2 linked regions of the Homo sapiens genome follow. The protein of the gene in region 2 interacts with the protein of the main gene of each other region in a pairwise test. Each region holds a gene or a part of one and is shown on either strand. Other genes may lie near its edges.

What was found. The genes of interacting proteins can lie anywhere in the genome.
Region 1: the proteins of ARL13B (region 2) and CD53 interact in binary tests that used the Homo sapiens proteins (3 or more experiments, as listed by UniProt).

The regions. Positions count from the first base shown.
Region 1 is NC_000001.11:110,897,148-110,900,422, reverse strand, and holds the end of CD53 (leukocyte surface antigen CD53), read right to left. Parts: intron 2,615-3,275; coding exon 2,531-2,614; intron 1,300-2,530; coding exon 1,228-1,299; 3' UTR 501-1,227; downstream 1-500. UniProt on the Homo sapiens protein: Structural component of specialized membrane microdomains known as tetraspanin-enriched microdomains (TERMs), which act as platforms for receptor clustering and signaling.
Region 2 is NC_000003.12:94,051,543-94,058,779, reverse strand, and holds the end of ARL13B (ADP-ribosylation factor-like protein 13B), read right to left. Parts: intron 5,594-7,237; coding exon 5,517-5,593; 3' UTR 3,102-5,516; downstream 1-3,101. UniProt on the Homo sapiens protein: Cilium-specific protein required to control the microtubule-based, ciliary axoneme structure. May act by maintaining the association between IFT subcomplexes A and B. Binds GTP but is not able to hydrolyze fit; the GTPase activity remains unclear.

The sequences.
Region 1 (3,275 bases), on a different chromosome or scaffold from region 2:
TGCACTCCAGCCTATGTGACAAAGCAAGTCTCCATCTCAAAACAACAACAACAAAAACAACAAACTGTGGCTTCTGTTTTGGGTGCCGAATCTCATGCCCTTTCTTGGATGTCTTTAAATGGGGGGAAGCCAGCTTCCATGTCATAAGGAAGCCCCGTGGAAAGGCACAAGTGGCAAAGATCTGAGGCTTGCCAACAGCGATGTGAGAGAGCCTGAAAGTAGATCCTCTTTCAGTTGAGCCTTAAGGTTACTGCAGCCCAGGCTGACATGTTGATTGCAGTTACATGAGAGACTGTGAACCAGAATCACCCAGCTAAGCTGCTCCTAGATTCCTGACCCACAAAAACCATGAGATAATAAATGTTTGTTGTCCTCAGCCACTAAATTTTGGAGTAATATTTTATGCAGCAGGAGACAATTAATACACCTGGTTTGGTGCATTAATCAGGGTAATCAGGCTGGGTCATGGAAGGAGTGTTTGATATATAGCAATGTTGTGATTGAGATAATAAACTTTTATTTATTGAAGAGTAAAATAGTACATTAACAAAATCTTATCTGATAGAGAGATAATACCAGAAGTCTTCTTACTGTGATTATCAGCTAAGTGACTGGTTGAAATCAGGATATAAATCACTGGATAGTTTTTTTCTGGAAAGACTTAGAACACATCAATAAGGCCCTCTAATAAAGAAATTGAAATGAGATCTTGCCCTTTGGAGAAAGAGAACTGTGTAATTCCTGTAGCCAGGGCACTTAGTCAAAGAGAAACAGAGGGTTGTGACAATGGTCCAGTGAGCCTGGCCCCAGAACTCCCTTCAACTAGTCTCTTGCTTGACTTTGGGGAGAAGACTGGGCATTATTTAGAGGCTGGAGACTAATTCGACAATGGGAAGATGCAAAAATTCATATCCTGGGTTCACCCTTTGATGTTGGGCCATTAAATCCAGTTTGTCTTTGCCTCTCTTGTCTAAAAGATGCTCAGATATTAGTTTCACCACTTTGAGAGACATGGCTGCTGCCGTCAGTGAGTGAAAGATTGTCTTGCTGCCTGAGATGGGATGTGCCTGGCCAACACCCACTTCTCTGGTTGTATAAGACAGGGACCTAAAAAGGGAAAGGATGGGAGGAGGATCATCCTGCAGTGATCATGTAGGGCTTCATGCTATAAATGGTTTTGCATTTCCGGAGATGAAACAAGTCTCTTCACCACAGGACTACTGCAGATCATAGCCCTATGGTCTGGCTGGTTTTGTCAATCTGGCAGTTCAGGGTCAGTGCAAAGGACATCCCCAACACCTGTGAAAAGAGTTGGGAAAATTTGAAGTCTTCATAAGAAAAGCCATTTCTTTCACAATGCCTGGGATTGGCCTCTGAGAAAAAGAATGTATCCATTACACTGAAACCACCCTTCCAACCATTACTTTCAAGTCTCTCTCAGGAGCTCTTTCCTTTGGTTAAAGAATAGCAGTGAGGAGAGAAACGGGGTCAATGATGACAAGATAACAGGCTGTAAAGTACTGGAGCATGTTTTATCTTCTGAGGAAGTCACAGAAGCCTTGCTGCTAGGATGGTCATATTCTGCTCACTGAACACTGTGCAATGAGTTATCTCTATCCATGCTCTGTGCCTCCTTTGTTTCCAAACAGAGAAAAATCATTTTCTCTGAGCTTCCTGATTGAGTTTTAACTAATCTATGATATACCCAACACTTTGGGTAGAAAAATGTTAGAAATATCACATTATTTTTGTCCTTTTTTATTAAAAAGGACAAAAAACTACCCTCAATTCACCCATCACTTGTCAAACTAAGCACAGAAACAAAGAGGAAATTGATTACAATTTTCGTCATCAGCCCCTTAACATGCAAGATCAGGTTTTCAAATGAAATACTTTATCAATTCGTATTTTTCAGACCAGCTGAGGAGGGATCACAGTGGGATTCTGCTTGGTGGCTTTTTTGTTTGACTGTGAATCATGTGAATCACTCATATCTCTGAGGAATGAATTGACCAGAGAGATGTTCTTTTTTTTTTTTTTTTTCTGGAGACAGAGTCTCGCTCTGTCGCCCAGGCAGGAGTGCAGTGGCACGATCTTGACTCACTACAAGCTCCGCCTCCCAGGTTCACGCCATTCTCCTACCTTAGCCTCCCAAGTAGCTGGGACTACAGGCACCTGCCACTACGTCTGGTTAATTTTTTGTATTTTTAGTAGAGACGGGGTTTCACCATGTTAGCCAGGATGGTCTTGATCTCCTGACCTCGTGATCTGCCTGCCTCAGCCTCCCAAAGTGCTGGGATTACAGGCGTGAGCCACCACGCCCGGCCAAGAGATGTTCTTATAGCACATTTTCTATATACCTTAAAGCAAATTGTTAATTACATTATTTGCTACTTGGCTGGGGGAATTCATATATTAGTAAAAATAGCTAACATTTATTGTGTAAATACTGTGTACCTGGTATTATTCTGAAATCTTACCTGACTTAACTCATGTAATCCTCACAATAACCCTGTGGTTAAGCTCTTACCTCAATCACACATACACAGATGGTGATGATTCCGATATACAGGAAATTGGAATGAAACCACAGTCTTGCTTTCGCATAGCAACCCTAGAAGACATTTCAGTTACAAATGATACTACTCTATAATTCCACCATATCAAGAGGAAGTATTTGGAAGATACAGTGCTTTGCATTTTGCTTTATGTAATACAAAGAGGCTTAGGTATTATATTTTTATTTTCTTTGCGTGAATGAAGAAACAGGCATAAGGTGGGAAATATTAAACTACAGACTTTTCTGGTGGTGTTATCATTACAGTGGTAACTAATGTAGAAGTCCTAGATCCTTACCCGCTGAGTTAAACTAGCTTCTAAGAGGCAGGTCAGCAACCGACGTCCTACTGTCTTTGAACACTCAGTGCTGACCAGAGATTAACATAGGGCATGCAATACTAAAATTGGTTTGCATTTCACTTTCTGCTTCAACATTCAGTAAATCCATCATAGCCCTACCAAGTGCCAGGGCAGTTGCTGGTCAGTGGTTGTCCTAGTCTTTCTCCACAAACCTGAAAAACCCTGGAGATTTCCAAACCCCTTCAGGAGCAGATAACATGAGGAGACAAGACCTCAGGGATTCGGTCTAGTTGGAAGATAGTTGTGGCTTCTTCTCAGAGCCTATTCTGGAGGTCCAAATTAATTGGACAGGTTGTTTCAGTAGTTCCACTAACTCTGTCTCCCTCAACTCCTTACTCCTTCACCTATGATTCATT
Region 2 (7,237 bases):
GGAAAGAAGTGCATTGAAGATAAAGCAAAAGTAAAAAAAAAAAAAAACAAAAAAAAACAAGGGGGAAGGGTTGGTTAGGCAATAATTAATTCTAGGGCAGGAAGAAGTACAGGATAGGAAGTAAGAGCATCATACGCTGTTTTTCTCAACAATGGGCAATATGTACATAGTCATAATGATGTGGTGACTGACTGCTTAGCCCCTAAATCTGGTAACTACTTTGGGACAATATGGGGGGAAAAGTGAAGATAGTGATGGTGTAAGAGCTAAATCCTCATCTGTCATATCAAGAAATCACTATATAATGTATAACATAATCAAGAAATGACTAAGTAGTTATGTGAAGAAAAGAATGGAACATTGCTAGAAGAGTTAGAAGTCATTGCTCCAGAGAATTAGGAGGGATGGGGCAGGGGACTGTTAGGATGCATTATAAACTGAAGAGGCTTTTAAAGATTACATGTATTAATATATGTATTCACTTGAAAAACTAAAAAAATAGTAATTTTTTAAAACCCATGGAGGTAACTACCAGAAGGAAAAACTAAGAGAATGAAAAGTGCTTTCCTCTGGAAAGAACAAGTCGCAGGACTGTTTTCATTGTAAGACTTTTGGAGCCATTTGATTTTACTTAACCATTTTCATATATTTCTTTAATAAAAATAATTCTATCTTAATAAAAAGTTACACTCATTCATTAAAAAAAGAATTTTAAGACTGTAATAAGAATCATAGTTTATTTCTGTTAGAGAAAGGCAATGTGTTATACTTGGAAAGAGGTCATATTAATTTTATCACATTTTTGGGACTCAGCATCTTTATATTTTCTGATTTTAAATAAACAACTTTGCTTATGAATTTTGTCTGAATCTCTAATAATCTCCTTATAATGCCTAGTTAATTATGCCCTTAGTTTGGGTAGGTTTTCAAATCTTATTAGTTATTTCTTTTTTAGATTACCGCTCATGTCCACTTATCTATAGGTGTCTTAGTATCATTTTATTTATATTTGAGATAACCATGTCAGATGTTAAAACACTTTCTCAATTTTTCTTATAACCATTTGACTTTAAGTGTGAAGGTATTTTAAAATTTTTTTTGTGCATTGTAAATTGAGTTTATTGATTCCACTGCTTTCAGGCTTATACATTTTTTCCCCGAGTGAAGCCACTTCTGTTTCTCCCCTTACCTTTTCATAGTTTGATCTTTTATGTTTAACCTCTTAATCTATCTAGAATCAATATATGTGTATCATGAGAATGTTAATGGATTTTACTCCCCATCCGCACCCCAAATAGCTACCAAAGAACAAACAATTCTACATTGAGTTTTAGGAATAAAAACTGTTAGCAGCAAACTTGAATTAAACCACTGCAGACATAAGACATTGAGCTGACACAAATAACATAAATCACATTAGTTTGTTTTTTGTGCTTTTTTTAATGTTAGCGTTAAAGAACCAAGCAGCTTAATAAGGACGTACCTCTAGGCAGGAAACAAATTTTTACATATCTAAGCAATTTTATTATAAGGTCAGTTGGTCTTAAGAAGTATTTCAGAGTAATTTATGGAATAACTCCTAAACTATGTTTTATGAATTTTCATATTTATATAAAATGTGTCAAAACCCTTCATGTTCATATAGAGGTTTATGTTGTCAAAAAGGTAAGGAGACGCTTTGTAGTAAAACAATATGACATCAAGAGAGCCCTGAGCTCCTTAAAATATATGGCAGAAAAACAACAGGAAAACACAACAGGAAACCTGTGATCAATGCTACAGAACACAGCATAGTTATAGGCAATCTTAGGCTTAAACGTCAGGTGAGATTCTCATTTTACTAAATTTCAGGGCTCCAATGTGGTCTGTACAAACTCCAGCAGACAATCCACTGTGTCTAGGAAGTAAATATAATGACTTTTATTTTTATTAAGCTTTATGTAGTCTTTTAAAATTTCTTTTTTTAGGGAAGTGTATTTAAAATGTACATAGTGCAGTAGAACAAGTATGTTAACTGTTATGGGCTGAAATTTGTCCCCCCAAAATTCACGTTGATGCCTTAACCCCCAGTACCTCAGAATGTGACTATATTTGGAGATGGGCCTTTACAAAGTTAAGTTATAAGAAGTCATAAAAAGAGGAAAATCGAACACACAGAGACAGTGGGGGTGGGTGGAGAAAAAAGGCCACGTGGGGACACAAGACAGTGTCTATCTATCAGGCAAGGAGGGGCCTCAGGAGAAAGCAAACCCACCAACTTGCTCTCAGACTACCAGTCCCCAGAACTGAGAAAATAAATTTCTGTTGTTTAAGCAACTTGTCTGTGATACTTTGTTATGGCCACCCTAGCAAACTAATACAATAACATAAACATCAATGTATATTAAAAATGTTTTCTGATAGAAGATATTATAATAAAAACTTGGAAACCACTGATCCACTTACCTAGGTTGTAAATGATTTCCTCATCCGCACACAGAAGGAACTTACAAGTTAAGCCCTCAACAAGCAAATGAACTTTTTTCCTATTTTCCATTTAATTATAAGCTGATCTCTTTCATTAAAGGAAGTTAATTTCTGGCTTTCTTTTTTTCCCCCCTCAAAAAACAGGTATCTATTATTCTGTTTCTGTAAAGATAAAGGATTATTGCTATTTTGATAACCTATGCCATGCTTAATTGAAAATTTTAAAATATTTGAATTTGTTCTTTGGATCAGTTGGAATATACTTCCTGATAAATTAATAAACCATTATTAGCAGAATCTCAGTTGCAAAGCATATTCCACTTAGCAAAAAAATTTACTAAGTAAAGCCAAGGATGATAAAGTTTATAAGCTACAGCTTTATATGTATAAACAATTTAGCTTGTGAATAGCTTTTGCTACCTAGAAGCATTTGATTTCTTTAGTTGTATTCTGCAGGTGAACTGCTCCACGATGTTCACAGGTTTTACATATTAAGGGAATTGTAGTCTTAATCTGGCATTTATAAAAGCACTTAATTTTAAACTTGCAGAAAACATGGTACTTAAATAATTTATACAATATTATAAATTTGCCTCCCTCACTACAAAAGTAAGCCAAACTACATTTCTTTCTAGTGTTGTTTCTATGCATAGTTTTATATTTGAAGTCAGTTACATACAATATCATGTATACTACGTAATATGCATTTTACACATAAAGGCACACAAGAGCCTCTTTTAAATACATAAAAACATATCTGTTGACCAACAGCTTTAACGCAAGACAGACATCAAATCCTCTAACATCATATGGTGAAATGCTATTTGTAGCTGCATTTAAAATCACAAATTCTTTCCCACATACATAAAAACTTGCAGAGAGAAAAAAGTTTTGTGTGTAAAGTATCAAAAAAATGCATTATTTTAATCTACTGATTTAAACTGTTTTTCAATAATCATATTTTAAAATCTTTACCTATTTTATTACCCAAAGGAAATCATTTAAATCTACCAATTGAAAAGAGAAACAGAATATTGATATAAATTATTTTTATTGTGTGAAAATGTCAAAATTCAGAATTAAGAATAAAAGTATAACATATAACAAAATAGGCATTTAATTGTTAAAATACACCTGGATTTACAAAACATTTTTTAAAATGTTTTTAAAATGCTTAAGGAATAAAAATTAATTTTTGAGAGAGCTATATAAAATGTGAATTCTATATTATATTTAATTTCAAAATCATTTATTTTTATTAAATGAAGCCAGTAGCTACACTATAGTAAACAGATAGAAAACACAAATTTTAAAAACACGTATACTCCCAAACGAGATAAATATTAAAAAGATAGCAAAAGTATGAGTTTAGTTTTAAAATTAAGTAAATGTTACAAAAAGCTATGCAATTTTCCCTCTAAAATCCTTTTCAAAGTTTACATTGTCTTTTCGTATTGCTTTTCATCACATTTCAGCCACCTCTCAAATTTAGGTTGTTACGAATTTTAGATCTGAAATCAAATGCTTTTACCTCACTCAGTGTGGTTGCTAAGTCCCATGTACAAACTCCAAGAATATATACAGTGCTGACTAGAGTACAGGTGACCTGATTATTAAAGTTCAGTGAGTTAAAAAATGTGAATAAAATCTGATGTTCTGAAGTACAATTTTTAAAGTAAATAATTATATTAAACGACATAAAATGTACTTAATGTTATCAGATACTAGCACATGTCTGTTGTGTCAGTACAAGTTACCAAAAGCACCAATCTTAACAAGGTGGTATAAAAATCATTCTGTTTATACTATTTTCATTGGATATAAAGGTTTGTTTTCAATTAAATGTAACATTATGAATCTATTATTAAAAATATACATCTAGAAGTTAGTCTAAATGCCAAATACAGAATCTTATGGATGCCATTCTTAAGTGCAAGAGAAGTGCTATCATTTTAAATTAAGAAATTATTTTGGAATTATTTATTTATAAAAGTAATTTTGGGCCAACATTTTTATTCTCATTACTTTAGTACACAAGCTGTTTCCCAGTTGTAAAACAGAAGTCTCTGGACCTGCAGTAGGTTTTCCAGTTTTTCTGCCTTTAATTTCATAGTTTAATTTCAAGGCATGAAAGAATTAGAATCACCTAAAAGAGTCACTGCAGCTTCTGATGGAACAAGGGAGTATAGGGAGCACCTTGATCTCTGAAAGTGTCTAACCTTTAAAATAGGACTTTACTGAGACTTTTAATAGTATCTCACAGAATGTATTTTGATTAATTTAAAAAACATTTAGGTACAAAAGGTATTTCCAGTCTCATTGAGTACTGTTTTCAAATCATGTAATTGTTAGAATAAAGATCTGAGAATCTACTACTTCGAAAATATATTATTTTTAAATTAGGTCAAATTACGATGTACACTTAAAGAACAACGCTATTACAAAACATACCTCAAGCCATATAAATATATCCTGTTTGTATAGTTCATGTCTGAAAGTAAATCAACTCTATTTTCCAGATATAATTTAAACAAATCATCTATAAAAAAGGTGTATAATCAATATCACAGTAATTAAAATTTTTAAAGATTTAAAAAAATATAAAAATAGTTTTAAAATTTTGGTTATAAATTCCTAGAAGTCCCCCTTCTATGTGCATATATCTTACAAAAAATATTTAATATCTAGAAATATAGGCTATTGAACAAATAGTAAAGAAAGTGCTGAGTCCATTGGCTCTTTTTGTAAAGTTTTCCTTCAGAAGTATGCTCATGAGTGGGGATGTATAAACCAGAGTCAACAGTAAATCTTGCTAATTTGGTCCAAATGCTGATTTCATGTACTGGTCATTGTGCTTCTTTTATTTTTTTAACCATGAAAAACACAAATAAGTAATTATCAAGTCAGGTCCTTGAGTATTAATCTTCTCACTAAAATTATTATGGTTATCTTGCCCCAGTCATCAATTTACAAGATGTTTCTTCTTCTGAGAAAGAAGAATGTCCCAGTTCACCTTGCTGATATTAAGAGAACTCCTCCATACGTCTTGTTTATGAGATCACATCATGAGCATCACTGTTAGGTCGCTGTGGCACAGCCAGGGGAGGCAGTGGCTTCCTATAGAAATCTAAGAAAAGAAAGAAAACCAAATGCACAAAACAGTTATGGTACATCAAGATTTTTGACACAGTTCATTATTTTTTAGACTTTAGACATTTTAGACATTTCCAAAGAGATAAACTTACAGAATCTTGACATGCCTCTCTAAAAGATTTCCTTCTCTCTCGTGCATTTTAAATCTTAAGAGATGGCACCAACATTCCATCCTGTTGAGCCAAATTATACTCTATTCCTTTTGCCTTCAATCCACACATGCATTAATCACATATTACTTATTATAATGGTTAAAATATTCCTTCCTTATGTTATACTCTCCAATCCAATTTCCATTCCTTACTTCTTACTTTGACTACTGCAATAGCCCCCAAATTTGGATTCTTACCCCAAATATAGCCACTATCAAGTTTGTACTTTACATTGCAACAAAAAATGTTTTTCTAAGCACCAAATATAATAGCATTTTCCCTTTTAAAAATAAAAGCATTTCTTTAAAAGTTATAGCAAGTTAAGACATCTTACCACATATATGAAGCCTTCACAATCTGGCCCTAAGCCATAACTCCACTTTCAACACTCTCTGTAATTTTATATTTTCTCTTTCTTACCCACTCAATGCACATAAACCTAATCTCCTGTCACTGGCAACTTCATGTTATTCTCCAACTAAACAATATTCTTTCCTAACTCTCTATCTTGAAATAGTCTGTTTCTTCTGCTTACTGACTCTTCTCATTCTTTGAAGACCTCGTTCTAATGCCACTTTCCCTAACTGCCCATGTACACAGTACTCCTACTGTGCACAGTACTCCAACTGTACACCATAGAACTCATTGTCATATATTCTACAGTAAGCTGAAGAATTGTCCTCTCTGTATAGTAGAATCCTCACAAAGGCAGAATGTACATCTTATTCATCTTGTTATTACCAATGTTTTAACAAACAAAATACTTGTATGTTAAATGAGTTCAACAGAAAAAATATGTCATATGAAAAATTGGTATTTTTTCTTCATATGTATGTGTGTACATATAAATATACACAGTAACATTAGTTTTCTAACAACATAGTGAATATTTATATTGACAATGTATTCTAACGTACACAAGTTCACTAAGAGTTGTGTAATAAAGAAATAAATCTACTGTAGTCAATATAAACATCACGATGTCAAGTCAGTAAACTAAACAGAGAGATGAGATTTCACTGAAAATACCACTTCAGTAATTCTGATGGAGTCTAAGGACAAACTTTTCTGTCTTTAAAAAAAAAAAAATTCATGAATTTTCACTAACGATTATCAAGAAATATTTCAATACTGACCTAAATAGAATTCTGGGGGAAAAAAGCAAATAGCACATTTATATTTAAGTACCTTTTAAACAAAAATATTTAAACTGGTTTGATATAATTTCAAATTATATGGTAATGCTTTTCTAAAGAGTAAACTTCTGAGTTTTTTCCTAGTAAGTGAAACCAAGTTCTAGACTAGGTAAACACAGAGCTGTCCAAAAAGGAATTGGATGTTCTTAACAAACAAGTTTATTGAACTACATTTATCTATAATTCTTTTGCATTCTAGAAATATTTTACTGAAGGGACCTAGACTGATGGTCTGTAATCAGAACTTCTCCTTGTTTTATAAGGCAGTTC